Linked DNA regions of Homo sapiens. The protein of the gene in region 7 interacts with the protein of the main gene of each other region in a pairwise test. Each region holds a gene or a part of one and is shown on either strand. Other genes may lie near its edges. The genes, in order: CCDC102B, ZNF438, MEOX2, SDCBP2, CEP63, MAD1L1 and SYT17.

What was found.
Region 1: the proteins of SYT17 (region 7) and CCDC102B interact in binary tests that used the Homo sapiens proteins (3 or more experiments, as listed by UniProt).
Region 2: the proteins of SYT17 (region 7) and ZNF438 interact in binary tests that used the Homo sapiens proteins (3 or more experiments, as listed by UniProt).
Region 3: the proteins of SYT17 (region 7) and MEOX2 interact in binary tests that used the Homo sapiens proteins (3 or more experiments, as listed by UniProt).
Region 4: the proteins of SYT17 (region 7) and SDCBP2 interact in binary tests that used the Homo sapiens proteins (3 or more experiments, as listed by UniProt).
Region 5: the proteins of SYT17 (region 7) and CEP63 interact in binary tests that used the Homo sapiens proteins (3 or more experiments, as listed by UniProt).
Region 6: the proteins of SYT17 (region 7) and MAD1L1 interact in binary tests that used the Homo sapiens proteins (3 or more experiments, as listed by UniProt).

The regions. Positions count from the first base shown.
Region 1 is NC_000018.10:68,838,949-68,843,232, reverse strand, and holds part of CCDC102B (coiled-coil domain-containing protein 102B), read right to left. Parts: intron 1-4,284. UniProt on the Homo sapiens protein: During interphase, forms fibers at the proximal ends of centrioles to maintain centrosome cohesion. During mitosis, dissociates from the centrosome following phosphorylation to allow centrosome separation. Contributes to CROCC/rootletin filament formation.
Region 2 is NC_000010.11:31,024,803-31,029,086, forward strand, and holds part of ZNF438 (zinc finger protein 438), read right to left. Parts: intron 1-4,284. UniProt on the Homo sapiens protein: Isoform 1 acts as a transcriptional repressor.
Region 3 is NC_000007.14:15,623,980-15,628,263, forward strand, and holds part of MEOX2 (homeobox protein MOX-2), read right to left. Parts: intron 2,940-4,284; coding exon 2,767-2,939; intron 1-2,766. UniProt on the Homo sapiens protein: Mesodermal transcription factor that plays a key role in somitogenesis and somitogenesis and limb muscle differentiation. Required during limb development for normal appendicular muscle formation and for the normal regulation of myogenic genes.
Region 4 is NC_000020.11:1,309,059-1,312,573, forward strand, and holds the end of SDCBP2 (syntenin-2), read right to left. Parts: intron 3,451-3,515; coding exon 3,279-3,450; intron 1,834-3,278; coding exon 1,742-1,833; intron 1,438-1,741; coding exon 1,383-1,437; 3' UTR 851-1,382; downstream 1-850.
Region 5 is NC_000003.12:134,561,777-134,565,798, reverse strand, and holds the end of CEP63 (centrosomal protein of 63 kDa), read right to left. Parts: 3' UTR 768-4,022; downstream 1-767. UniProt on the Homo sapiens protein: Required for normal spindle assembly.
Region 6 is NC_000007.14:1,819,818-1,824,101, forward strand, and holds part of MAD1L1 (mitotic spindle assembly checkpoint protein MAD1), read right to left. Parts: intron 1-4,284. UniProt on the Homo sapiens protein: Component of the spindle-assembly checkpoint that prevents the onset of anaphase until all chromosomes are properly aligned at the metaphase plate.
Region 7 is NC_000016.10:19,223,369-19,227,652, reverse strand, and holds part of SYT17 (synaptotagmin-17), read right to left. Parts: intron 2,971-4,284; coding exon 2,815-2,970; intron 1-2,814. UniProt on the Homo sapiens protein: Plays a role in dendrite formation by melanocytes.

The DNA.
Region 1 (4,284 bases), on a different chromosome or scaffold from region 7:
AGTATTAAACTGTTAACAATACAAGTTTTTACAAATATACTTTAAGCAACATACATGTCATTTTGCAACTGCACTTCCTACTATTCATAATTACATCTTTCAGCACTGGGTGTTAGCACTCGGCTGTTGCAAACAGCCAAGCCATATACAGTTAATTTAATTAGAAAAGATAAGTGTTTAAAGAATATTGTTAAGCTCAGATCTCCAGGAGAATTATAGAACAAGGCTTGCAGATGAAGCGGACAGGGACCAAGACCAACTCTCATGCCACAAAACTGGTCCCATGAAGACCCCACTGCCTGTAACCTCCTCTGTCTGTTGCCTCTACACTCTCCTGGTAATATGTGTCTGGCAAGCAAACGTATTCAAATTAGCAAATTTGAGCGGAAATTGACATTATAGCTCAAAATATTTCTGGGGAATACATGCAGCCAGGAACACTGATGAGAAAGCCATCAAAATCTTCCTGTAAGCACACTATTTCGGCCACCATTAAGGTAGAGACATCACAGCGGGACCTCAAGATCACCAATACGGGACAGTGAGTGGTGTCACTAAGCACCAGAGGCCACCGCTGCCTCTGGAAACAAGTTGTCTTTATTGCTGCTGCTTCTCGCTTAGGTATGGATTCTAGATGCTGTCTATTGCCTTGCGGTATTGGCTTGGCTTAAAAGTCTAGGTGGCCACCTCTGATGCACTATTCCTAAGTCAAGTGTCTGTACCCTCATTGCAAAGGAAACCCTGGTAGAGACTTACTGGCATTTTTATAATCTATGCACAGGTGTAGACTCTGTTTCATTTGGCAGTGAATTGCCAAAACACAAAATAGACACTGGAGAGTCAAAAAATGGTAAAGGTTTATTGAATATTCCATGAGTGACAGTTAATAAAGTAACAAAATAAGCTTGATTTTCAAATATTTACAAATATTACATTAAATAGTATTAACCAGATTTGCATGTCAATGTATTCATTGAGGAATATATATATATATACTTTATATATATAATTTCTTAAATATGTAAAGTAGAAATCTGTGTCTTTCATACATATATAAAAAATAATATCCTTTGTAGCATTTTTAATTTGCTGAAGCTTCTAACCTGGATTTTAAATCTCATTAAGAAAAAAATTGAACATTTAATGAAGCATGCTACTTTTCTTACATAGAAAATAAATTAAGAAGACAAAATGGGCTGGGCGCAGTGGCTCACGCCTGTAATCCTAGCACTTTGGGAAGCCAAGGCGGTTAGATCACTTGAGGCCAGGAGTTTGAGACCAGCCTGGGCAATATGGCAAAACCCCGTCTCTACTAAAAATAAAAAAATAAAAAATTAGCCAGGCGTGGTGGCACAGCCTGTAATTCCAGCTACTTGGGAGGCTGAGGTGGGAGGATGGCTTGAGCCCAGGAGGCTGAGATTGCAGTGAGCTTACATTGCACCACTGCACTTCAGCCTGGGCAACAGAGCGAGACTGTCTCAAAAAGTAAAGAAAAGAAAAAAAAGATAAAATGATAAAATGGAAAGGGAGGACTGAAGCTCAGCTTAAAGGACACAGAACAAACATTTTACAAGTGATAAAGGAGGTCTCTGCAGTGAAATTTGAAAACTGATTCTGAAGTTTGGGACAGTTCAAATTATTTTATCTCAGTCTCTGTTACTTGAGATTTGGTATTGCCAAACCTCAGCTTCCCAAATGTTTAGGTACACATAGGCCTATAAGAGGATCAGCTTTCCTGGCCTTACTCCAAATTTTCTACCTGGGAAGTCTTTATGAAAGTCAACAGAAATATATAAATTCTCAGTATATGAGAAACTTTTATACACTGGATAATTATTCATAAAACTGAACAGTACTCAGAGTGCAAAGAAAACTATAAAGTTTCATCTATTTGATGAGGAGGTTCTAGTCAAGGACAATGGAAAAAAATGAGTCCCTGAGTTTTCTGAGTTGATTTCTGTGCACTAGTCAAGAAGAGAATTTTCCCACTAGATGGGAATGCAGAAAAAAATACATTCACATCTCAGTCGAAGCCACCCACTCACTGATATTCCAGGAAGAAGAATTTAAAAGATTAGATGGATTTATAAGTAATAGCATATCCTATATTCTTGGAAAATGTTCTCTTGTGATAGAAAAAAAGACTGATTGCCTCATGCGGATTGCATGCAAATGTTGATTCATGGACACAGGAACCATGACTCATCACGTCCGTGGGATTGTTTCTTAAAAGAGGAGAGTAGGAAGACAAAGCCATGGAAAGCTTCCTTTTTTCTCTTATTCTTTGGCCTGTCTATGGATTATAGACTGAAGTCACTGAGAACTGCAGAATGTACTTACTCTGAGAATTGTTCATTTATTCCAAGAAAGTAAAAAGTATATGTTGTGTATATGTATATGGATAAGCGTGTTAAGACAGAACATGCATATCTTTAAAACTGACACCTTAGAATAGAAGTTTACATCTAGAAAAACACAGCTCTGCATTGCTCCTATTAGACTGCACTGGGGAAGTAATATTGTATGTGGGCTGGAGAGAAGTCTATAATTACCAAAAAGTTAAATGCTTCAAGAAGTAAAACCACGGAGATTAGAATGTGACTGAAATGTATAGGGCTAGATAAAATTGTCACTATGTGTACGAGCCTAAAAATTAAATTCATTTTTATTCTGTTTTCTACTAATGTTGGTTGCCTCTATTAGGAATTTACACTTGGTAGAGTAATAAATATTTATTCTGTACATAGATACTTGTATGATCACAATCTACTAATCTAGTGAAATACAGATGAAGAATCTGAAAAAGGGAATTGGTGGCACTAGTAAATTTCAGAGGGACTAATGAGAAACTTCTGGCAGAAAGTAAGTGGTAAAGAACTTACTGTATTTGTGAATGGCTAGCATGCATATTTATCCCTATTTCAGTCCATTCAAGCCAGGAAAATTAAAACTGTTATATAATATATACTTATATAATACATTGTGTGTATATATGCATACATATCCTTCTTGCTTTTCTGGTTCTGCCTATTAAGATTTTTATAACTAAGAGATAAAAAATAATTATTTTTAGATTTTGGAACCTTATTTATATATTAGATATTCCACATTGTGCTAATAAAATTGTAAGCTGATTGCATAGAAACGAAAATCCATATTGAACATTTCATATTACTATTCTCTTTCCCAGATGTTATTTGTTCTTGATCTTTATGAGAATTCACTGAGAAAGGCTATGACAGACTGTATTTTGCAAAGATCGTTGCCACAATGACTGCATCCCACACACCCTTATTATAAAATTGTTTTCACACTCCTTCCATTGAAAGTGCCTCTCTCTCTTTAATCTGAGTCAGACTTTGAGATTCTCACCACCGATAAGTGGGTCTGACTTTTGAGGCAGAATCATTCAAATGGCGTTTTCTTCTCTCTGTGTTCTTAAGATGTTCACTTGCAACCTAGCCCCAATGTTGTGAGGAAGCCAAGCACCCCCTTAAATAGCCCCAGTGCAGGTGTCCCAACTGAGGCATAGATGAAAACCGAGATGGACTGCCAGATATGAGTGAAAGAGGCTGCAGCCCCCAGCCTTCCATGCATTGCCAGCCTTTGAGCCCTTGCAACTGAAGGCACAAGTGAGAGATACAATGTCCATGCCAAGCCATGCTCGCGATTCTTGAACAGAAGACAGGGTGGTTGCTGTTGATATGTTTTAATGATAATTACTTGGAAAAGTTTGTTTCAAGATAATAGATAACTGGAACATAACAGCACTACAGCTATTTTCACAAAGGGGCAACAGCCAACATCACATAGCTAGAAGACATCAGACCAAAGATGAATATCCAGGCCAATTAAGCAAAAGCCTGATGCCCTTAATGGTCCATGTATAAGACTACTTTTTCTGTAATAAATATCTCACAAAATTGTGATTTTTCCACTATTAATATTAACATATTTATTCATTTTTACTGACCAAGTCCAAGATGCTGTCAAACTTAAATAATACACTGGATATTTTAACCTTGTACATTAAGAATTCATATACAATTAAAGTGAATCTACCAGAGAAGATAAAAACATAGTCATGATAAAAGTCAACTTAAAAGAATGGAAAACACTAACAAGTTATAAACTACATTTTAAAATTCAACATATGAATATATATCAAACTAATTTCTTTAAATCCTAAAACTTAATGACTAAACATGGATAAAATACATTATCAAATGACCAATCTATCTGTATTAACAATTTTAAGTGATTTGAAACTTAGACTTGGTTAAG
Region 2 (4,284 bases), on a different chromosome or scaffold from region 7:
ATGTGAAAAGGATTTTGACAGATATAAACCATGAAACTGTGAAATAGCTAATTTAACATATACAACAATAAAGGGAATTCACACTAGGAAACCTGTTACAATCCAGGATTATATAAAGTCCAGATTAAATTAATTTTAGTAAGAAAAATATTCATAGCCAAAAACAAATACAAAACCACTAGACACACTAGCAACCAAAAAAATTCAAGGCTACTATTATTAGCTCCAAGAATTATTTCCCATTCAGTAAATGAACCAAATTAGCTCAGCTATCCAACAAACTAAAAGCAGTACAACACAATCCTTTGTCCAAGTCAGGCATTTGCCACTTAAAACTACCACCTCCATTTCTAAAGCAAAAAAATAAAAAAATAAAAAAGGAGGAACAGAAGGAAGGAGGGAGTGAAGGAAGAAAAGATATTACAGAATTTCTCAACATCAGGAGTACTGACATTTTGAACTGGATAATTTTCTGTTGTTGAGAAGTTGTCTTGTACATTGTGGGACATTCAGTGACATGCTATAATGGCCTCAATCCACTAGATGCTAGGAGTAATGTCCCCACACACAAATGTGACAACCAAAAATGTTTTCTAGACATTGCCAAATGTCCCCAGAGTGTGTTGGAAAGTAAAAAATCATTCTGAGTTCAGATTCTTCACAGTATCATCTTCCAGTATTTATTTCACACTGCTTGGTGGCTTGCAATGCAGACTGAAATTAATAGCTTTGCAATTGAAGAACCAAATAAGAAAATACTCCCTGTAGAATAGTAACAACTTGAAGAATAATAGCTACGTAGTTATGGTTAAATTATTCCTTTCATCGACATACTGGTTTTGCTTACTATTCCCTAAGAATTTTCTTCTGGGTGTTCTTTTGGGGTTAAAACTTGGTTAACCTGTCACTAAAGCTTAGTCTCCACCTAGACTTACTAATTATTAGCCATTAGTGTAATGTGTTAAAATCAAACCTAAAGATTTTAATTTTTAAGCAACCAAATGTGAAATGAAGCAAAAATAAGTGCTACTTATATAAATTATTTAAATATATTCAAACATTTAGAGTGTAAAGTACACAAACAAGCATCCAGCTACTACTACAAATATATATGAGTTGAAGATAATAATGCAAAAATAAAAGTGATTGCAAGAAGTAGAATTTTGACAAAAACAAGAAATGGGGAAAGGATTCCCTATTTAATAAACGGTGCTGGGAAAACTGGCTAGCCATATTGAGAAAGCTGAAACTGGATTCCTTCCTTACACTTTATACCAAAATTAATTCAAGATGGATTAAAGACTTACATGTTAGACCTAAAACCATAAAAACCCTGGAAGAAAACCTAGGCAATACCATTCAGGACATAGGCATGGGCAAGGACTTCATGTCTAAAACACCAAAAGCAATGGCAACAAAAGCCAAAACTGACAAATGGGATCTAATTAAACTAAAGAGCTTCTGCACAGCAAAAGAAACTACCATAAAGAGTGAACAGGCAACCTACAGAATGGGAGAAAATTTTTGCAATCTACCCATCTGACAAAGGGCTAATATCCACAATCTACAAAGAACTTAAACAAATTTACAAGAAAAAATCAAACAACCCCATCAACAAGTGTGCAAAGGATATGAACAGACACTTCTCAAAAGAAGACATTTATGCAGCCAACAGACACATGAAAAAATGCTCATCATCACTGGCCATCAGAGAAATGCAAATCAAAACCACAATGAGATACCATTTCACACCAGTTAGATTGGCGATCATTAAAAAGTCAGGAAACAACAGGTGCTGGAGAGGATGTGGAGAAATAGGAACACTTTTACATTGTTGGTGGGACTGTAAACTAGTTCAAACACTGTGGAAGACAGTGTGGCGATTCCTCAAGGATCTAGAACTAGAAATACCATTTGGCCCAGCCATCCCATGACTGGGTATATACCCAAAGGACTATAAATCATGCTGCCATAAAGAGACATGCACACGTATGTTTATTGTGGCACTATTCACAATAGCAAAGACTTGGAACCAACCCAAATGTCCATCAATGATAGACTGGATTAAGAAAATGTGGCACATATACACCATGGAATACTATGCAGCCATAAAAAAAGGATGAGTTCATGTCCTTTGTAGAGACATGGATGAAGCTGGAAACCATCATTCTGAGCAAACTTTCACAAGGACAGAAAACCACACACCACATGTTCTCACTCACAGGTGGGAATTGAACAATGAGAACACTTGGACACAGGGTGGGGACCATCACATACCAGTGCCTGTCGTGGGGTCGGGGGAGGGGGAAGGGATAGCATTAGGAGACATACCTAATGTAAATGACGAGTTAATGGGTGCAGCACACCAACATGGGACATGTATACATATGTAACAAACCTGCATGTTGTGCTCATGTACCCTAGAACTTAAAGTATAATTTAAAAAATAAATTTAATTAAAAAAAGAATTATATTTAAATGCTCAGTATGTACTATCACTGGGCTAGACACACTGTTTTCAACAATAAATCTTCATATATATAAAAGTACTCATAAAATAGTTTAAAATTTGCTTGTGCAAATGTAAATTTTAAAAGGAATCTGAATTTTATTTACTATCTAGGATGTTATATTTCGCATGGTCAGTGTTAGAAACAGAGGGTCCTGTTGTTTTCAGATAGAACTTACCATCACTCCCCCTCTGCTGGGAGCTACCTGACACAATTAAATAACCATCAACCTGCCCTCACTGTGCCTGAACTTAAAAGTCAATAACACCTGAGCATCAATAGGCTATTGACTATGCAATTTTACTTTATACCATATATGGGTATCTGATGTTCCTGGGAAACTAACTGCAAATGTGGTGTAAATAAAGACTAATCATTTCAACTCCATTAAATGTAGGGAAGCTACAAGAGCAGATTTAAAACGTTGTGAACTGCAAAATGAGATGGCACCCCTCTACATTTACGTTAGTAGAGGGCTTCTGTTTAGAGTAATCATAGATCTGGTTATTTAGATACTTTCCCAATGAAAGCTTAAAACAAAATATAATTTTATATATTTTTAAAAATTCTGAAATTAACCATAAAATCTACGGCAGTGCAATTTTATATAATTCTTACATGGTTTAAATTTGAAATACTCATGTTAGGAAGTAACAAAATTGTGACAACTGTTGAGGTTATGGTATGCCATGAAAGATCTACGGGAACAAGACACATCTTTTTTTGTTTGTATTTTTCTAGTCTCCATGTTCTACAATGATCCAGCTATACGAGATGTAATCTGCAATTCCACCTACAATATATATCACCAGATCCCCTTTCTATGACAAAAAAAAAATACATGTCAATGTTAGAGATGGTCAGCAAAGAAACTCAAACTTATTCCAATAGGTGGAACTTTGGCATGACACACTTAAACCGGTGGAAACCTGCCTGAATACTTCACCCAACCCCTCCATCACCCTCTATTATGCAAGCTGCAACATTTCAAGCCAACTCCCTTATTTCTCTGGTGAGCCCTGTCAACACTGAGGTAATAGAACTGGAAAAACTCATCACTTCAAAAGGACAGTCAAATATCAGAATTTATTTCATTTGGTAAAAATTCTATCATTGCCAAATAAAGCTAATGCAAATATAGTAAAATATGCATGATTTTGAGTAATTCTTTTGTTGAAAAGGACTCTTGGGGAGCCTCAACTTCATCCTGCAACAGCTTAGGCATTCTTTTGCCCCTTTGCCCTTTTCATGCCCCATCTCACAAGTCATGGAAGCTGGGGAGGGGAGGGTGCAGAAAACCCAAATGAACTAATCGGCATGTATTTATGCATTTAGTCTACTCTAATTTTATTCCCACAGGTTTTTCCTCATACCCTGCTCCTCTAAGGTAAAGAACTGTTTTATTCATCTCTGAACTTCCAAAACCTAACCAAATGCCCATTATATAAAGTCATCCCTAACATCTACTACACAGCAGGCACTGGATTAGGGACTAGAGATAGAGAAGTCAAAGAGACAGACCTTGCCCCTACGGAACCTACAGTGGGGAATACCAGATACTGGCTGCATGAACCCAGTCAGGTCGTAATCAAAGACCAGTTAGCACAGTCCCACTGCCTATAATCTTTCTCCCACAGACAACCAAAGCTTAGATGAAAAACAAAAGCATGCTTTCTCTTCAGAAAAATAAATGGGTATCTCCAACCCTGACCACTCCCCTGAGTTCCATATTCACAGGCATGCATACTCAACATGTTCACTCGGAGGTGGTTAC
Region 3 (4,284 bases), on a different chromosome or scaffold from region 7:
ACCTGGGTGATAATTCTGTTTTATAGTTTACACTAAAAATTATTTCATACCCATTATGATATACAAATCTACATAGAAGAAAGAGCAGGTTTTAATTTCCATTTTATGCCTTGGGGAGATTGTTACTTACTTAAGAACACACAATTCTAATCAGCAAACCTTGGATTTTTATTCAGATTTTTTTCATAACAATTAAATTCTTTTTGACTAACCCAGGGAGGCCCTCTAAAGCCTTAGTTTTGATTAGGAATTTAAATTCTGCATGTATACATCTTTTCACATTAACTTGCAAAACTGCACGTAGAGATTTATGGAATAAAAATATATTGTGCACAATAACAAATTTTCAATTCAATGAAAACTGAACTATCTCTCATGTTCTGTGTTAATTTCCCCCCTGTGATGCTGTGGTTAGATTATTTCAGGAATGACTTCCAATGAAGCGATCTTGTCCTACACTGACACTGAGTTTGGTCACATGGCTTGCTTTGGACAATGGGACACTAGCAAATATGACGTAAGAGGCCTGAAAAGCCCTTGCTCACCGGAGTTTTCCCCCTCAGTGCTCCTGGGAATGCTTCTATCACCATTGGAAGGATCCCAAGCTAGCCTATAAGAAGATGAAACCACAGCTGAGGCCCAACCATCTCTTTCTTAGTCAGCCCACCAGCTGACTGGAGCTCCATGAGGGTTCCATGTAGGGCCAGCAGTATTACTGTCCAACTAAGCCCAGTCAAAATCTCTAACCTACAAAACCTAAAGCAAATAAAACTTTGGTTATTATTTGAAGCCATTAAGATTTGGAGTGGTTTGTTACACAGCAAAGGGTAACTAACACAAAATGTTAAAAGAATCTTTAAAACAACATTAAAATAGTATGTATAGGTATATATAATTCTTGCATGTAATTCTTTACCAAGCTCCTGAAGTCAGTTAGAAAGAAGAAATATCCAAGACACCTTCAACGTTTTCAAACCAGATTTACAAAACTGCTTCTAAAGATAAATGATTCTGCTCCGTGGTCAAACAATGACAGATAACCGTAGACCACCCCCAAAATGTCAAGTACAGAATCTTGTTTTTCCTCTTGGCTGAGAGCACAGTACTGGATCCTGTCATTTCTACAGATTGGAAGCAAATCCTAGTTTCCTAGTTCCTTCATCTACTATATAAAACACGGTTGCATTTCCTAGAATTCACCATCTCTATATAAGAACATTAGTGTGTAATTCTCCCTCCACATACACCTTTTTATTTTCCGTTCCCTGTTTAAAAAAAATAATAAAATAGAGGTCTGATGATGTAGACTTTGGATCCTGCTTTCCAGCATGCCAAATGTTGAACCCATAGAGGGAATTTTGTATGTGAAGTCTAAGGGAAGGAAAATGCTGTGCTCCATAACATAGGTACTAGTCATAATATGTAATAAAATACAAACTGCCAATAAATAAAACCACAGAAAAGTGTTCCTCTGTATATTTCTACTACCCATAAATAACCTACCAAAGCTGAAATGTAAAAATTAACAGAAGGAAAGCAGGTCATTTAAGAAATTGGATAAAATAACTTGCTCTCTTAAGACATGCATTCATTTGTCCACACCCTGTTGATATTTCTTTGGTTCCAATGGGATCCTGGAGGAGGTACACACAGTGAAAGAGGAAATGAGACTCTAGCCCTAAGAGTGCCAATCATAACTGCACTGTCCATAAAGATGTTTGCATTTGCCTTTCAGGAATGTTTTTGTAAAGATTAGCAACTGTTAACCGGCAGTAGGCTAGATTCTCCTCAGGGAAACAAGAATCTGTACAAGGAATTCACTGGGAACACTGTTAGAACAAATCATTTGTCATTCAAAAAAAATGCAAGAAAGGGACCTAAAAAGCAATTAATTTAAAAATATTATTTAGGTCTCATTAATTGGAGTCCAAAAACATTAATAATTTCAAAGTATTCTCTGAGTGGGTAGCAGAATTTTGAATTACTGACACCGATACAATTTCAAAAATATTTTGGGTAAAGGGGCAGAAATATTTACCAATGATCTATGTGTCCTTGCCTTTCATCATTTCCCAGCCATCTTGCACCTAAGCCGCACCATTTGACTATTCTAGACATTAGTGTGTAAATAGAAGTGACATGGCTAATTTCCAGGTGAAAACATTTAAAGGTCAGTGCATAAACTTCCAATTCTTTCTTATTTCTTGTAGTTACCATGGACACCACATGTTGAGATGCTAAAGAGTCAGAATGGGTCTGTGAGTGATTATCTGGAATGCTGGACATGTAGAGTTTGTATGGAGAGTGAGTAAGTAATGAACATTTTTATGTTATGCCATTGAGATTTGAGGGTGAATGTGTTACTGCAACTTATCATGACCTATCCTGAGCAATACAGAAAACTAATCTGGGTTTACCAACTTTCTAATATGCCAAATAAGGAGATTTTAACATATAAGCATGCACAACTCCTCACTGTATGCCATCATTATGTAAAAGAAATAATATTTTAAAACCCAAAAATACAGAAGGATAATAATCATAGGAGGATTCTTTCTTCAACTCAATAAGTATGGTTTTCTTTCAAATATCACTATATTATTTTTAATTTTGTTATTTTGCTGGCAAAATTTTATCATGGAATAGTATAACTGTCTTCCAAATGGTATTCAAGAATTCTGGATCTAGGTATTTCAAATATGGCAAAGAAGACTGTGGACCCAGGGCAATTAAAAAAGATCATATAATGATAATGCCCAGCTTTACCTGTCTTTCAGTGAGATCCAGATTCACTGCTATCTCGTATCGCCTCAGTCTGGTGAGATAATTATGATGGGCAAATTCTGCTTCAAGTTCTCTGATTTGCTCTTTGGTAAATGCTGTCCTTTCTTTCCTGGGTTTGCTGTTGACTTCTGACTTGTAATTTCCTTCCTGGGAGTCTGAAAAAAAAGGGAGACAGAATTGGTAATAACTCATTTATTCAAACACATGCAATCATATTATTCACAGTTATTGAATTACTACTTTTCCAGGTACTGCGCTAGACATGGAACAAATAGAGACCAAAGACAGCAAGACTGACGGCAGCTCAACGGGGGGAGATATAATTCTTATTTTTTTCATCTTCCTTCAGGTAACTCACAGTCCATTTGGGAAAGCATGTAATTTTCTTCTTATAAAATATTAACAAAACCTTTAACTGCTTGTAGTATGATATTAAGATAAACCAAAACCTCTCTAGAAAACACTTTTAGATATGAAGTTCTGTTTCATAAGTTGTTGAACATACGTACTTGAGGTCTAAGTAAGATTGAACATAGTAATCCTTTAAAAAGTGGCATCTCAATATAGGAGTATTTGAGAAATTCAAACGTTTAGCAACTGGACCATAAAAAATTTTATGCTCAGACTGAGCGTATGTAAAAGTATGTGTGTACTTATTGGCTTTTTTATCTGTATTTAAGTAAAATTCTTGAGGGCAATAGCAATGTTCTTTTATTTTATATTATACTTAGTCCAACATGGAATCTATAAATGAAATTGTGTTCATATGACTTAAACTATGAACAGAGTTTTTAAATGTGTTTTTCATTATATATAAGATAAACATAAGGTGCACAACATGTAACATCAGTGATCCACAACATCAAATCTTATAATGCAGTGTAAAATACCAATAGCAATTTTGAGTATATCATTCCATTTTTCCTCTTAAGGGTTCAATACATAACTAACGTATAGAATTTCTTTTATCCTCATAAATACCCCTGAAATGTAGGTCAGAAGACATTCTTAATATACTAAAAAGCAGAACGTGAATCAATAGTAAACACACACACACACACACGTCAAGTAAAAAGTAATCATACCCAGCTCTAATAACTTAGGGCAAATTTATCCTCAGTGAAATATCAACATAATCAAGAAAAAAGGGCACATTAATGCTCTCCTGAAAATTATTTCTGGTATCTAATTATTTTTGCACATGTACAAACAAGCTGTGATATCTTTAAAAAGTGTGAATACACTTAACTCTTCTAGGAACCCAAATGATAGAAAATTGATGTAGAAAGATGATCATTAACCAAAGGTTTCAAAGAGTGACATTTTAATTGTTTTTTTAATTGACAAATATAATAAGGCATGGCTTATGCAGGATCTTTTTAGATTATGTTTTTTTTCATGCAATGATGCTTAAATATGCTAAGAAGTACAAAAATGAATTTTTTAGTGTTCTATTTCTTTCTGTCTGCCTGAGGGATGTTTAACTGAACTAAAGAGGAC
Region 4 (3,515 bases), on a different chromosome or scaffold from region 7:
GGGGTGGGACAAACTGCAAGGTTCTGGGGCCAAGGCCTACCCAGGGGCCTCTGCCCAGAGAACTCACAACCCCCTCTCTGACCTGGGGGACAATGCAAACAGGTCACAGTGCATTCCCATATTAGGCCATCCCCTTCACGAAGAATTCAGGGGATGTGGGAAGTGGGGAGGCGGGGAGGGATCTTGACTCTTGTCTCCTTTGTCCTTTTGTTCAGACAGAGTTGTACCTGCAGCAGACAACTCTGAATTAAAGCATGAAAACACAGCAAGCCCCTTGGCCTGTTTTCTTTATACTGGGTGGTTTCTCTAAGGGGAGGCAGTGGGAGGGTTCACACCATCTTCCTCCAGCGCAGGGGTCACAACACCCGCACGGGAAAAAGCCACGTGGGCAGCGATCATCTCTGATGTGCAGGGAAGCAGAGAGCTGTGTGGGGCTGAGGCACCACTGCCCTCTTGGGGTCAGGCTCAGAGTCTGGAGCCACCTCCCCCTGCCCCCACATGGCACACCCTGCTGGGCGCCATGAGCACATCGCGTCTCACCTTCCCCAACACCCCCTAAAGTGGCTTCTCATGCCCACTTTGCAGAAGCAGAAGCAGCCACGGTCACACGGGGGGTGCCCCAAAGCCAGTGCTCCCTTTGTCAGCCCCACTGCCCCACAGTCCTACCCCATCCCCACAGTTCCATCCTGTCCCCAGTTCCAGTCATCCCCGCGCCAGGCTGGCAGGTGGCACGTGACAGAGGCAGAGCCAAATCATGGCTCTCAGAGGCCACGCGTAGAAAAGGCCCTGGTCTCACCACGGTTTAAGAGGAAACCAGCCCTGGCACGTCAGGGGACCAAGGATTCCAGAATTTTCAGTTACCTTTTTATTTTATTTTCAATAGTTTTGGGGGAATCAATTACCTTTGCGGACAGGGTTTTGTTTAAAATCAAATCTTTATTCAAAAGATAGTCAAGGCTGACAACTTATGCAGTCTGTGACAAAGAGCAAGTCAAGGCAAGGAAAAAGCTCTCACAAAGAACGTAGCTCTGTTCTCTTAAAATGTGTAACTGTTTTCCTGGTAGAGCAAAATTTCTTGAAAGGGGCCCAGTTGCGACTTTAAGCAGCGTTTAAACAGCCTGCCTCCGTGTCCAGCATTTAAATCAGCACAAGAGAATCGGCTGCCTGTGGGCCCTGCCTGAGCCTCAGCCTAGCTTGGAGTCTGAGGCTCCAAGGAGGCCTGTGTGTATAAGCCATCCCATGGTCACCCTCCTGGACACGCCCCCCTCATGGCAGCCCCCACCTTAAGCAGCAGGCCGGCTGCAACCCATCATCCGAGGGTGGTTGCCCTTTGCTGCAGGAGGGCGGGAAGCCCCCCCTGCCTGCCCTGCCCTGCAGTGGCTTCAGGCATCTGGGATGGAGTGGTCCATGGTGTGGTGGAGCAGGACTGGAGGCAACCTGGATACAGCAACAACAGTGACCAGGTTGGCAGCTCCTTCTCTCCACCCTCCAGCAACCTCCACCCCCTTCCGAGCCAGTGCATCCCATGTGGGCCTTCACTCCCAGTTCTAAGACTTTCGAATCACCAGAAGCCACAAGCTACCTTGGAGGGAGGGGAAGGGAGGATAGAGCTGGCTGAGCCTGTGCCCTGTGTCAGCACTGAGAAAGTGGAAGTGGCTGAGCCAGGTGCACCTGGGAGGCCGGGAGGTGAAGGGGATGGCAGAGGAGGGGTGAGGAGGGGTGAGGAGGGGTGCAGCCTTACTTTTTGACCATGTGCTCGTAGATCACACTGGGGATGATGGTCAGGGTGACAACGTTCCCAGCCGTGGCCAGAATCTCCATGATCTTTTTGTCCTAGGGAGGAGGCAAGTAAGCGATCACCCTAAGGATTGGGGACCAGGGGCAACTCTACAGGCCCCTCTGTGGAGGGATCAGCATGGCCACTGCTAGAGGACACCACTGATGGCTGACTGCAGGGCAGGGCTGCCTCGGACCCCGAGCCTGTCAGATGAGGGTCCCAGCAGACTCCCAGGTAAGGTCTTGCTTGAGTGAGAACATGGGTCTCCCACCTGAGGATCTCCTTGGTCAAATGAGCATGCCTCTTCCCACCCTCAGCTTGAAGGCCAGCGGTGTGAGCCTGACGCGTAACAGGGCCTCATCAATGCGATTCTCCTCCCCCTTCCAAGGGCTCCCAGAGACTCACCAAGCCCACAGTCACATTTGGGTTCTGGCCTCAAAGCATAAATGCCTCCCCATCCTGTGGGAGGTACTAGGCGTACCCATCCACCCTCTGGCTCCTGCTGCCTCCAGGGCCATAAGGATCCTCCTCCTCTTACATCCTCTTACATTTGCTTGTTTGATAAAAAGAGATGGGCCTGCAGACACCACTTAGATCATGGGAAGAACAAGAAATTAAAAGTCTCTACGCAAAGCGTGCCAGGTGGTCCAAACACTAACGTTATGGCCATAGAAGAGCCTCTGGCCCTCACTCAGAGCCTATTGACCTTTACATTACACATGTATGTTATCTGGTTATGTGTTTTCTTGGTTGTTCGAAAATAAATGTGAGAAGATGTGCTAGACAGGACTAGTGATGGCCACAGGTGGAAATAAACTTTGAAAAGACAAACGATCTCAAGAAGTGTGGCTGGCTGGGACAAACCCAGTTCTGAAGAACCTCACGACCCCATGGATTTCTGAATAACGATTTTCTAAAACATTCCTAAACTACTGAACATGATCCACTATACCAAAAAAAGTGCCATACAGAGCAAGGAGGTGTCCATGCAGCCAGCAATAGCTATTATGTATTAAGCACCTGCTATGTGCCTGGCACTGTGCTCAGAGCTCTAGGTACACTGTCTTTTTTTTTTTTTTTTGGAGACAGGGTCTCTCTCTGTTGCCCAGGCTGGAGTGCAGTGGCATGATCATAGCTCACTGCATCCTTGACCTCCCAGGCTCAATTAGTCCTCCCACCTCAGCCTCCTGAGTAGCTAGGACTACAGGTGTGCACCACCACGCTTGGCTAATTTTTTAGTTTTTTTTGTGGAAAGAGGGTTTCACATTGCCCAGGCTGGTCTCGTGCTCCTGGACTTAGTGATCCTCCTGCTTTGGCCTCTCAAAGCACTGGGATTACAGACGTGAGTCACCGCACCCAGCCCTACGAACACCGTCTTACTGAACCCTCACAGCAACCTTAGGAAGAGGATGCTGAGGCTCAGGTGGGGTAAGCAAGCTGCCCAAAGACCTGAGCCCTCCCACCACCCGGCAGTCCCTCCCTGGTGCGGCCACCAGCCTACCTTCAGCCCGATAACATTCTGCCCGTCCACCTCACACACGTAGTGGTTGGTGAGGAGCCCGTTGCGGGCCGCAGAACTCCCTTTGACCAGAGAGACAATCTTCCCCTTCTTGATCACGAAGCCGACGTGGCCCATGCTGTCCTTGTGCATGGTGACAGTCCGCTGGAACGGCCTGGCAGGAGGGACAGTGAGCTGTCCTGGGGACATGGCTGGGGTGAGACGGAGAGGCTGCCCGGG
Region 5 (4,022 bases), on a different chromosome or scaffold from region 7:
TCTATGATTTTTTTTTTTTTTTATCTTATGGGCACCATAAAACTTTTAGGTAAATGTTTTCTCCTCTGCTTTTCCCCCTCTGAAGCTCAGAGGTAACTTGGCTGCCTTCCTCTAGCAACTGGACTGGACAACTAGATTCATTAGTGAATCAATGTTTACAGCCCTCATTTTCCCTCTGCCCCGATTCTGTTTGTTACTTTTTGATGCATTTATACTATTTCAAACTGTTTTGGGACAAGCTGACACATTTCTAACTTTTTCTACATTTCAGTGCTGTTCATGACAACTGTTTGCTTAACGTATGTTCTCATGCCATAGAGCTTATTTTATAATTATCTTTCTTATCTGCAACTTTTAGGTACTGGACTCGAGTGTTTTGCAAACAGAAAATCATCACCCACAGTTTACCAGGTGTTATGTGTATGTAAGAGAGAGAAGGTAAGAATTGTTTGGGTTTAAGCAGATGTCACAGAAACAGAGTGTTGTAGTATTTTTTCTACACTTGTTGAGATCAAATGAGTCTGCAAGGGAAGGTAATGTCCAGCCCACAGTGGGAAGTCAACTTTGCCCTCTTCAGCTAAAATCTGCGTAGGAATCCAGATGAAAATTCATGGGAATCCAGGACAAGAAGAATGAGATGACTTGCCCAATAAAACATTATCTGTAAACACCAGATGTAGACTACAAATCCCTAATCTTTTCATCTCATTTGGGTACCCTGATCACGGACAGATTTTGGAAAATGTGTGTTAAGACACTAACTCAGATTTAGTCTTGACACATTTTAATATTTGGTATTAATATATCTTTTTGAAAAATGGTGAGACATTAAATTACAGTCAAATGTTCTGACAAATTTGGACAACCCATTAACTATTAGATACTTCAGCTTTAAAAAACAGTATAATTTAAGGAAATACATAGTACCTCATGATTCCTTAAGTATTTCCGGTGACTACAGAGTCTGTCATTGTTCCTCCTAGTCAACACGTAGTACAAACGTTTCAGAAACGGGCTGCAGTCTACAGATTTTAAGCTGAAGCTTGGGACTGTCTAAAACTCAGAAATCTCCTGAATGTAACAGCAATGCACATAGGTACAGTACTTAAAACTGCAAAGCCCTTTCAAATATATATTTTCAGTAAATCTTCTCGACCCCATTAGATATTATTTCAGTTTTACTGATAAATACAATGAAGCCTTGAATGGTAGTGATTTTCATCCACCCAATATTTGCTTAGGATCTGTTATGTGTTAGGCAGCATGCTGACTGAGGATGTAGGCAGGACTTAGCCCCTGAAAGACAGAAATCAAAGCGGATAGCAAAGTCTGGTCAGAGCCACACACAGGGTGCCATGACAGCAATGAGGAGAAACGTTCCCTGACATGGGTCAGGGGATATGGGAAAGCTTTGCCAAGCCAGATAAAGTAGCCAAGTAAAGGGGGAGTTTTAGGAGCACATGACAGGGTGTGGGAAGAGGAGACAAACTGAAGGACAGCATGCACACCAACACAAAAGAAACGATGTGGTGCACCTCAGGAATGGCATTTTCCATTGGTTCAAACTAGCTGAGCCTCTCCTAAGTGTTGGGCTTGTGCTGGGTGATGAGGATCCCACCATGAACCAGAGAAGCAAAGTCCTTGCCCTCAAGGAGTTTTAATTCTAAAGACAGAAATAGACAGTACAAACATAAATCAAGTAATGAAATGATTTCAGATAGTAGTGAGCACTATGAAGCAAGTAACACAGGCCAATGAGCTAGAGAAATGGGGAGAAACAGGTTTGGGAGGCAGCAATCAAAGAAGGCTTGCTCAGGAGAGGATGCCAGAGTGCAGGTCTGCAAGGGGGAAAACGCCAATCAAAGGTGAGGTAAGAGAAAGGGAATATTCAGGGTAAACTGCAAATGAAAGACCCGAACAGGTTAAAGCTTGCTGCACTCAATAAACAGAAAGGACGCCAGCATGGGTGGAGCACAGTAAAGGATGATGCAATGGGTGATTAGGCCCAGATTATTGACACTCTGTAGGCTATACTAATTCATTTGGATTTTATTCTGAGTGCAGTAAGAAGCCTTGGGGCTGGGTGCAGTGGCTCACGCTTATAACCCAGCACTTTGGGAAGCTCAGGCGGGTGGATCACTTGAGGTCAGGAGTTCGAGATCAGCCTGACCAACATGGTGAAACCCTGTTCCTACTAAAAATACAAAAATTAGCTGGGCCTGGTGGCATGCGCCTGTAATCCCAGCTACTCGGGAAGCTAAGGCAGGAGAATCACTTGAGCCCGGGAGGTGGAGGTTGCAGAGAGCCGAGATCCTGCCACTGTACTGCAGCTTGGGCGACAGAGTGAGACTCTGTCTCAATAAAAAAAAAAAGAGAAGCCTTGGAAGAGTCTGAAGGGAAGCAGTGGTGACACTGTTTCATTTACATTTCTAAAGGATAACTCCAGAAGCTCCCTGAATTACTGGTGTGAGTACTATCAGTTAGGAGGCTACTGCCAGAATCAGGGTGAGAGAGAAGTAGTCTGGATCAGGTGGTAGAAGTGCAGGAGGGAAACGGTTGGGTCTGAGATAAGATTCTGGGGGAAGAAATGACAGGACCTCCCAAATGACTGGATATGCGGATGTGGGTAAGGAAGGAATTATAAGTAACTCCTAGGAACTGGCAAACATAATGCTATGTCCTGATATGGAATCTTAGCAAGAGGGAGAATAAAGAGTTCTCTCTTGGAAACAAGATGTTTGTCAGATATCCAAGTGAAGACATCGCATAAGCAGCTAGGTATCTAAGACAGCAGCTCTGGGGAGAGGTCAAGATTAGTAATAAATGTAAGGGTCACTGGCCTATAGGTGGTATTAAGAGCTTGAGAATGGAATGGAAACTTCTAGGGAAGAGAATGCTGAGGGAGAAAACCCATGACAGAGCTCTAGGGGGCCCTCTGACTTAGAGGTTAGAAGAGGAAAAGCCATGAGATGGAGTGGAGGATGAGGTAGAGAGGAAACCAGAAGTTCCAGGTCACAGAAGCCAAGAGAGAGTCCAACTGTGCTGAATGATGCTCAGACACTGATTAGGTCACTGGTGAACTCAAGAGCAAGAAAGCAGTCTGGGGATGGAAGTGGTGTTGGAGAGGGTTAGGAAGAGAACTACGGTGGGGCGGGGTGAGGAACTGGAAAGAGTCACTGCAGACAACTCTTTCCAGAAGTGTTTGGGTGAAGGGAAGCAAACATACAGAGCAGTAAAAGAGAGGCATTAAAAAAAACTGAGGTTTTATTTAAAAAGGGGAAATAACAGGATGTTTTACGCTGATGGGAAAGATCCACTACAGAAAGAGGGTTCACAGAGGCCACACCCTTGAGCTGGCAAGTACACTACACTGACCTTTCTCATCTGTAACTGCACATTCTAGTTCCTTTGCTAGATCTATTTCCTGTGATCCTCAGATGCTGGCATCTTTCAGGGCCCCAAACCCAGCCTCCTGCTCCTCTCTCTCTCCACAGCCTCCCTGGTGGATCTTATCAACTCCCATCGTTTCAAATGCCTGCGGCACATCAACATCCAGATCTTTGTCTCCCATCTAAACTTGTCCTCAGCAGTGCAGACGATGAACATTTATTTCCAATGGATATTCCATGGGCACCGTGCATGACAGCCAGTCCCTTGCCCTCCCTGCCTCTCTCCTCTGCATGAGTGTTGAGCAAGAGAGGACTGCTTGATAAGGTTCTTTAGCACACCCCCCCCTTATTCACTACCAGCCTGACTTTACACACTACCAGCCCCTTGGCTAGGAGGGGCTACCAGCCCAGTAAATAACAAGCCCCGTTGGCTGGTAAGTGGCAAAACCAGTCTATCGATCCAGGTATGTTTGACCCCTAAATCCATGCTTCTACACATTTCCCCTAAAGAAAGTTCCTGCAGTTACTTTATTTTCAACATGTATCATAAAATCCTTATTTCAATTAGTACATAGCTATTCACATTTAAGTCAGCAAGGTAAGTATCACTTTATGATAATAAATATTCGTATG
Region 6 (4,284 bases), on a different chromosome or scaffold from region 7:
CTCGGAGGCCAAGGGGGAAGTGTGAGGGATTCCTGTCAAGAACAAGACCCCCTGCTGCTGAGGGTCCAAGAGAAACTCCATGAACTGGGAAACTCGAGGGGAGGAAGCTAGAGATGGAATGAAGGAAGCCCTGAATCCTGGCTCAAACAAGGAAAGCTGAAATAATGCAGTAAAATGAGAAGACACGCAGGAAATGGAAACGATGCTACTTCGAGATACTGGGAAGTTATGTGAATGCTGTTCATCTGTGGGGTGGCGTGAAGAGGTGGAGGCCACACCAGTGGACATCAAAACCAGAAACCAGTCAGAGAAAGACAACAGGAAAACTGTAAGTGCCTGGAAATTAAACAGCACACTTCTAAGTAATCCACGAGTCAAATGGGATGCCTCGAAGGAAATAAAAAAGAGAACAGAATGGAAACAAGAATACAGCATAATGAAATTTGCCAGACGCACCCAAGGCAGTGCTTAGAGGGAAACGGACAGCACTCAATGCCTGTATCAGGAAAGGAGAAAGATCTCAAATCGCTTCTCTAAATTCCTACTTCAAGAAACGAAGGGAAAAACAAGCCCGAAGCAGGAGGAGGAAATAATACAAGTAGGAATGAACAGGAAAACAAAAGTTATTAAAACCAAAAACTGCTTCTTTAAAAAATAGCAATAAGGCCGGCCAGGAGCAGGGCTCACACCTGTAATCTTTGCACTTTGGGAGGCCAAGGTGAGAGGATCACTTGAGCCCTGGAGTTTGAGACCAGCCTGGACAACACAGTGAGACCCCATCCCTATAATCAATCAGCCAGGTGTGGTGGCATACACCTGTAGCCCCAGGTATGTGGGATCACGTGGGCCTAGGAGTTTGAGGCTGTAGTGAGCTATGATCACACCACTGCACTCCAGCCTGGGCAACAGAGTGAAACCCTGTCTCAAAAATTTGTTAGAAAGACCAGCAACGATAAATTGATAAACCCCTGGCAAAACTGACAAAGATTAAAAAGGGGGAACGCCTGTAATCCCAGCACTTTGGGAGGCCGAGGTGGGCGGATCACGAGGTCAGGAGATCAAGACCATCCTGGCTAACACAGTGAAACCCCATCTCTACTAAAAATACAAAAAATTAGCCGGGTGTGGTGGCGGGTGCCTGTAGTCCCAGCTCCTTGGGAGGCTGAGGCAGGAGAATGGCATGAACCCAGGAGGCGGAGCTTGCAGTGAGCCGAGATCGTGCCACTGCACTCCAGCCTGAGCAACACAGCGAGACTCCATCTCAAAAAAAAAAAAAGGGGGGGGGGAGAGTGAAATGACCAATATCAGAAATGAAATGGAAATATTATAATAGATCCAGAAGCTATTAAAATAACAATAAAAAATACTACAACAAAACTTGATGCTCATAACAAACTGGATGGATTCCTCGAAAACCACATACTACCAAAACGTGCCAAGATAAAATAGCCTCGGTAGTCCTATAACCATTAAATAAATCAAGTTTGTTCTAATTAAAATGCTACTCAAAATCTCCAGTCCCAGATGGTTTCACTAGAAAGTTTTACCGAACATTAAATATGAATTAATACCAATTTTACACAATCCTTTTTCAGTTAACAAAAGACAGAGAAACACCTTTCCACTATGAACCCTGTACTGAAACCAACAAGGATGGTGCGCACACAAAGAAAAATAAGTATCAGTCTCTCATGAGCTTAGCTGCAAAAATACTCAACAAGGACTAACAAATGGAATCCAGCAACACACGAAAAAGAGTATCACACCCTGACCAAGTGGGATTCAGTTTAGGTGTACAACGACGGCTAGTTCAAATTTGAAAATCAATCAATGTTATCCACCCTATCAACAGGCTAAAGGAAGACAATGATATGATCCTATTGGCACAGGCAAAGCATTTGAAAAAATTTAATCTCCATTCCTGACAAGAACTCTTGCAAAGCAGGAATCAAGGGAAAGTCCTCCGACTTGGTAAAAAGCACCACGAAGAACCCTCAGCTCACGCTGCTTCACGGAAGAGTCTGGCCGCCTTCCCTCATTCGGTCAGCGGAGAGCTGGCTTTCCCCACTCATCCTCAACCCAGCATGGGAGCTCCTCACGCCAGGGCATGCAGGTAAGAAAAGGAAAGCAGCAGCATAGGGATTGGAAAAGAACAGAACTGTCCCTACTCGGAAATCACATGACGGCACACGTGGAAAACCCTAAGCAATCTGCAGAAAACTCCTAGAATGACGTGACGGCCCACGTGGAAAATCCTGAGCAATCTGCAGAAAACTCCTGGAACACTAAGTGAGTCCACGAAGGTTGCAGGAAATAAGATGAACATACAAAAATTAACCACATTTCTATAAAGCAATTGCAAACAAGTGAAAAACAAAATTAAAAGGCAATATAATTTACAGAACATCTTAAATACTCGGGTATACATCTAACAAAAACTTGTATAGTGTCTGTTTGCAGAAAGTTAGGAAATACTGATGAAAGGAATCGAAAGGAATAAAAAGAATGTTTGTATAAATAGATACAATGTTTATGAACTGGAAGACTTATAGTAAATCAATTTTTCCAAAATTGATCTTTGGTTTTAAGGTAATTGCTGTCCAAACCTCAGCATATATATATATATTTTTTTTTTTTTTTTGGAAAGAGGGTCTTATTCTGTCACCCAGGCTGGAGTGCAGTGGTGTGGTCTTGGCTCACTGCAGCCTCAGGCAATCTTCCTGCCTCAACGTGCCAAGTAGCTGTAACTACAGGTGCGCACCACCACTCATGGCTGTATTTTTTTCATAGAGATGGGGTCTCCCTGTGTTGCCCAGGCTGGTCTCCCAACTCCTGGGCTCAAGCGATCCTTTTGCCTTGGCTTCCCCAAGTGTTGGGATTACAGGCGTGAGCCACCATGCCCGGCCAGCATTTTTTTTTTTTTTTTTTGGTAGAGAGACACAAGATTATTCTAAAATGTATATAGAAAGCAATTCCAAAAAAGAAGAGTAGAGGAATTGCCCTTCCTGATGTTGAGAACCGTACAGCTACAGCACAGCGTTATACGGCTCCTACGTCAGACAGACATGGCTGGGGCAGCGCTGGAGGGGAGATGTGGAGACCAGCAGAACAGAACAGAGGAACTCGAAAGAGACCCACAGACGCGTCCAGGCCACTTTCTAACAGAGAATATTATGCCGTGACCAAGTGGGACTTCGTTTAGGTGTACGAGGCTAGCTTGGTATTTGAAAATCAATCAATGTAATCTGCTATATCAACAGGCTAAAGAATAAACAACATATGACCCTATTAATCGATACGGAAAAGTCACAGAAAAGTCACAAAGGCGCTTCAGTGGAGGAAGGGCAGCCTTGTCTTTGCTACAGCTGGAGCCGGAGGAGCTGGACACACTTAGTTAAAAAAAAATTTTTTTGACCGAAACCTCACATCTCAAATAAAATTTAACTCAAACTGTATCACGAACTTACATGTAAAACACAGAATTATGTTAAAAAAGAAATCTTCAGGATCTGGATGAGGCAGAGCTCTGACACTCAACACCAAAGCACAATCCACAGAATAAAATTAAAATGGATAAATGGGCCTCGCCAAAATTTTAGGAAATTGCACAGTGGAAGAGCCTGTGAAGCAGATACAAGGATAAGCTACACGACAGGGCGCCAGCGTCTCCCTGCCCATCTCTCCTAGAACGCCACGGCCACAGGGGACCCTGGCACCTGGAGGGGTGACTGCAGCGTCTTAACCCCAAGTGGGATTCCTGCCTGTGCCCTGGCCCCACAGGGCAAGGCCCACATCTGTCTTGCTTCTCTCTTTTCCCAGAACAGACCTCACCAGGCTGGAGAGTGGCCTGGGCACAGAGGCCGGGCCTGTGGCATCAGCGGCCATCGTGAGGGCAGAGCGCCCAGGCATTCTCAGACACACCCCTGCTCCCACTGGCCTTCCTGGGAGAAGCACCCCCTTGTTCCAGATGAGAAGCCGCAGCTGCTGGGCCGGGGGAGGCATGAATATTTCATGCTTGGATCTGCAAGCGCCACGCACCTAACTGGACACAGCTCCAGGCGCCTGCTTCCCTGAAGCCCAATCCTCCTGTCATTGGTGTGCTGCAAGCGCCGCTCCGGAGCAGGGCTCTGTGTGGGGAGAGGAAAGGAGCCCTCGGGGGAAGTTATGCTGGGAGCCCATTTGTGGGGGGACGGAGAGCGGGAAGCAAGGTCCATGAGGATGGGGTGTCCTGCAGCTGGGTCCTGACCGGGGGCTGCTCCCTCTCCTGGGCCTAGGCACTGCAGG
Region 7 (4,284 bases):
GAACTGGAAAGGGGAAGGCATTAAAGGAAGACATTAGGCCAGGCGTGGTGGCTCATGCCTGTAATCCCAGCACTTTGGGAGGCCGAGGTGGGCAGATTGCTTGAGGTCAGGAGTTTGAGACTGGCCTGGCCAACATGGTAAAACCCCGTCTCTACAAAAAATACAAAAAATTATCCAGGCATGGTGGCGTGCACCTATAATCCCAAGTACTGAGGAGGCTGAGGCACGAGAATTGCTTGAGCCTGGGAGGTAGAGCTTGCAGTGAGCCGAGATCATGCCATGGCACTCCAGCTGGGCATCAGAATGAGATTGTCTCAAAAAAAAAAAAGCGGGGAGAAGGATTACACAGCAAGAAAACACTCTGAAATAAACAAAACTGCATGAGGGAGTGAGAAGGTGGTGGCTGCCCCATGTGTGTGGGAGAAAAAAGGAAAACACTAAACTTTCCCTTTAATAACAGTTAACAGTTCTAGAGTGCTTACTATGGGTGGCACAGTGCTCAGCACCGTGTGTTTATTGATCTCACTGAATGCAAATAACAATCCTGTGAAGTGTCCTGTATTGTTATCCCCATTTTACAGCTGAGAAAACCTAAGCACGCAGATCTTGCCCAGGGTCACCAAAGTAGGTGAGTGGTAAAGCCAGGACCCAGACATCAGCTCCCCAGCACAGGCACATAACCCCTGTTCTCCTCTGATTCTCTGTCCTTACACATCTTTTCATGGTGTCACTCATTATAACACGTGTGTGCTACATTTATCATAAAATGTTAAGTAAAATATGAAGTGTCAGGGCTTTCCATGGGGGCTCTCAGTTTCCCCTGGGGTCCTCTCCTCATCTAAGCTTACAATAGGAGGTCCCTTATTCTCAGCAGGGACTTGGGAAAAGAGACTTCATTTTTTATCTGTGTCTTGGTTTAATATACAATAGGCCCCACTACCTGCCTGTCCACCATTTAAGGAGTCAGGGGTGACGGTCTTCTGTCTTGGCCTGAAACCTAGGAGAGAGTGAGGCCCTTGTCTATTTGTAACTCCATCCGGACAGCAGCCATCACAGACTGCATTAGAAGGGATCATTATATCTGCATATGGCAGGCATCCCCTGATTCAACGCAGACTCTATGGGTGACAGGCCTTGAGAAAACCCAGAACCAACCTGCTTCGAAGGGGTCTCAGAGGATAGACATTTGCAATCTTGGTGAGAAGGAGCAATAAGTTTATATAGGGGAAATCTTGTATGCAAGGGTTTTTCAGCCATGGATTGATTTCTTGGGAGACCTGGAGCCCAGGGTTCTAGACAAGATCTAACCAGAGGAGAGTTTCCAGTTACCCTGGAGAAGGATGTCTCAAAGGATGATGTCGATCCCCAGTTCTAGCCCTACCTGGGTGTTTGAGGAAATATAGATCCCTTGATATGTGGAGCTGGCAAGACCAGAGCTTGAGTCCTGATTCTATCAGCTTGAGACTTTGTGTAGGTTGTTTAGGTTTTAAGCCTCAGTCCCTAGATCTGTAAGTTGAGGATGAAGATATCAACTTGACAGGGTGGGTTATGGTGAATGTTAGCAATGATATAGGGAAGTACATACTGTAATTAGAACACAAGAAAGAATAACCATTACTCCTACTAACTCTATCCCTGTTGTGGTGAGTAGCTTCTAAGATGAGTCCCAGTGGTTCCCACCTCCCACTCTTCCTACCCTTGTGTAATCCCTTCCTCTTGAGTGTGGGCTGGACCTAGTGAATTGCTTCTAGTGAATAGAATATAATGAAAGTAATAGGATGTCATTTCCAGTATTAGATTACAAAAAGACTCTTCCTTGCCATTCTTGCTCCCTCACTTGACCACTCTGATGAAAGTCATGTTGTGAGTTGTTCTATGGTAAAGCCCATGTGGCAAGGAATTGAGGAAGGTCACTGGCCAACAACCAGGAAGGAACTGAGGTCCCCAGTTCAACAGCCTGCAGGGAACTAAATCATGCTGAAAACTGTGAGTGAGCTTGAAAAGAGATCCTCCCCCAGTTGAGCCTTCAGATGAGGCTGCAGCCTCAGCCAATACCTTGATTGCAGCCTTGTCAGAGGTATTCACACAGAACTATACAGCAAAGCTTTGTATACCTGAATTTCTGACCCACAGGGACTATGAGATATAAATGTTTGTTGTTTCAAGCTACTAAATTTTGGGGTGATTTATTATGCTGCAATAAATAACTAATATACCCTGGAAATACTACATTAGATTACACCCTGGAAAAATGGACTAAATTCTACCAGACAGTGTCACATGAAGCCTCTACTTAAATACTACATCCTCTGGGAAGACTTTAAAAATCCCTTTTTCTGAGTTAGGTGACACTGTTTTTTCATATGCCTCTCTATTTGACTGCAGGGAACTTGAATCATCACCACCATCATCATCAAAACTAACACATAGTGAGTACTTATTATGTACCAAGTATATTGCAAAGTCGTAAGTCATTTACTGTTCACAACAAACCTATGCCACACGTACTATTATTGTTCACATTTTGTAGATGAGGAAACTGAAGCTCAGAGGAGTTAAGTAACTTGCCAAAGACCTCAGTTATTATGTGGCAGTCTGAGGAAATTTGGCTCAAGTCCACATTTCTAACAATTATATTATAGGGCTCTATGAGTCCTGCCCCAGTTCATAGATGTTAAGTGGGTTCAAACCCAGGTAGTTGAATGCCAGACATTACGTTCTTAAATGTAACTCTCTCTAGATGCCTTCTGGCTCTAGGACAGTAAGTTTGACGTGCCTCACCTGGAGTTCATCGGGTTTTGGAATGCTACCTACCTGTAAACACTAGGCTGGCATTTTCCAGTTCTTCTTGGGGAACTTTGAAGCTGAAGGATTCATTGTAGAAAGGATCAATTGTGCCCCTTAAGAAGGACGTCTTCTTGGTTTTCACAAGTTTGAGTCCATGCACCAGCTGGATTTTCACAAAGGGGTCTGAAAATTAGACACAGCATCATAGAATGTTGGAGATCATGAAACCTAATCCGTCCAGTCATTCTGCCATTCAACCTCCCATCCATCTGTCTTTTTATTCCTCCATTCTTCTATCCATCCACCCATTCAACTTTTCATTCATCTCATAGTCCGTCCATTCATCCACCTGTTTATCCATCCATCCATCTTTCCATCCGTCAGTTCACTGATCCATTCATCATCTCACCATACTTTTATCTATCCATTTTCTATCCATCCAATTTCTCATCTATTTGACAGTTCAACCATCCATCCATCTATTATCCATCCATTTTCCCATTCATCTGCTTATCCCCTTCCTTCTTCCTTTAGCCATCTAATATTTGTTGAGCTCCTCCCATATGTCAGCATTGTGTTCATTTTACAGATAAGAAAACTGAGGACTCAAGGTGAGAAATCAGTTTTTAAAGATCTTGCTGGTGGACACAGAACCAGACTCAGAGCCTGCCCTGGATTTCTGTCTGTGGAAACCCATTATCATTTCAGTGAGCCCATAGCCCATATACAGGTGAATAGAGATGGCAGAATTATAATTCATTTTTAGATCATTTTACAGTTTACAAAGGGATTCATGTACATTATCTAATTTAATATTTGTTTAAACAACTTATCAAGATGAATACTGTTATTATGTCAGTTTTTGAGATTGAGAAATTGAGGCACATAGTGGTTAAGTAACTTCCCTAAAGCCACATCATTTGTAAGCCACATCATTTGACTCCTAAACCCTTAATGATTTTATCATACTGACTCTCCCATCGTGGTGAGTCTGAAACTCTTCAGTCTTAATACCATTGCCTCCACTGGCCCTTTCTAAGCCTCTGTTTTTATAATGTGGCTTTTGAGAATGCAAGGTGTCTTCTAGCTGTCACCTTATTGCAAAAGTAATTTATTTTAGCTACCGCACTTAGAGAAGACAATAATTCCACCACTGAGCTGAACAGATCCCTGACTACAGCTGCTTTCACAGTAATATCCTTTGCTGTCATGGAAGAAGCAACATGCAGATGGAATGGAATCTGTTCCGTTCCATTAAAAGTCATGTTTGAATGGTTTTTGCTATAATATACACACTTTAAATACAAGTCTTTTCAGAGTTGGAATTCATAAAAATTTATGGCACACATGAAATGAGCTGGCGAAAAACCTTAGGGTGTGTCCTCCACGCTCATTGATTAGAATGGATAGTCAATGCACACTATCGCCACCTGCAGGATGGCGTCTACATTGCAGGAATAGCATTTGGAAAGGCCAAGTCACTTCCTTGGGTTCAAA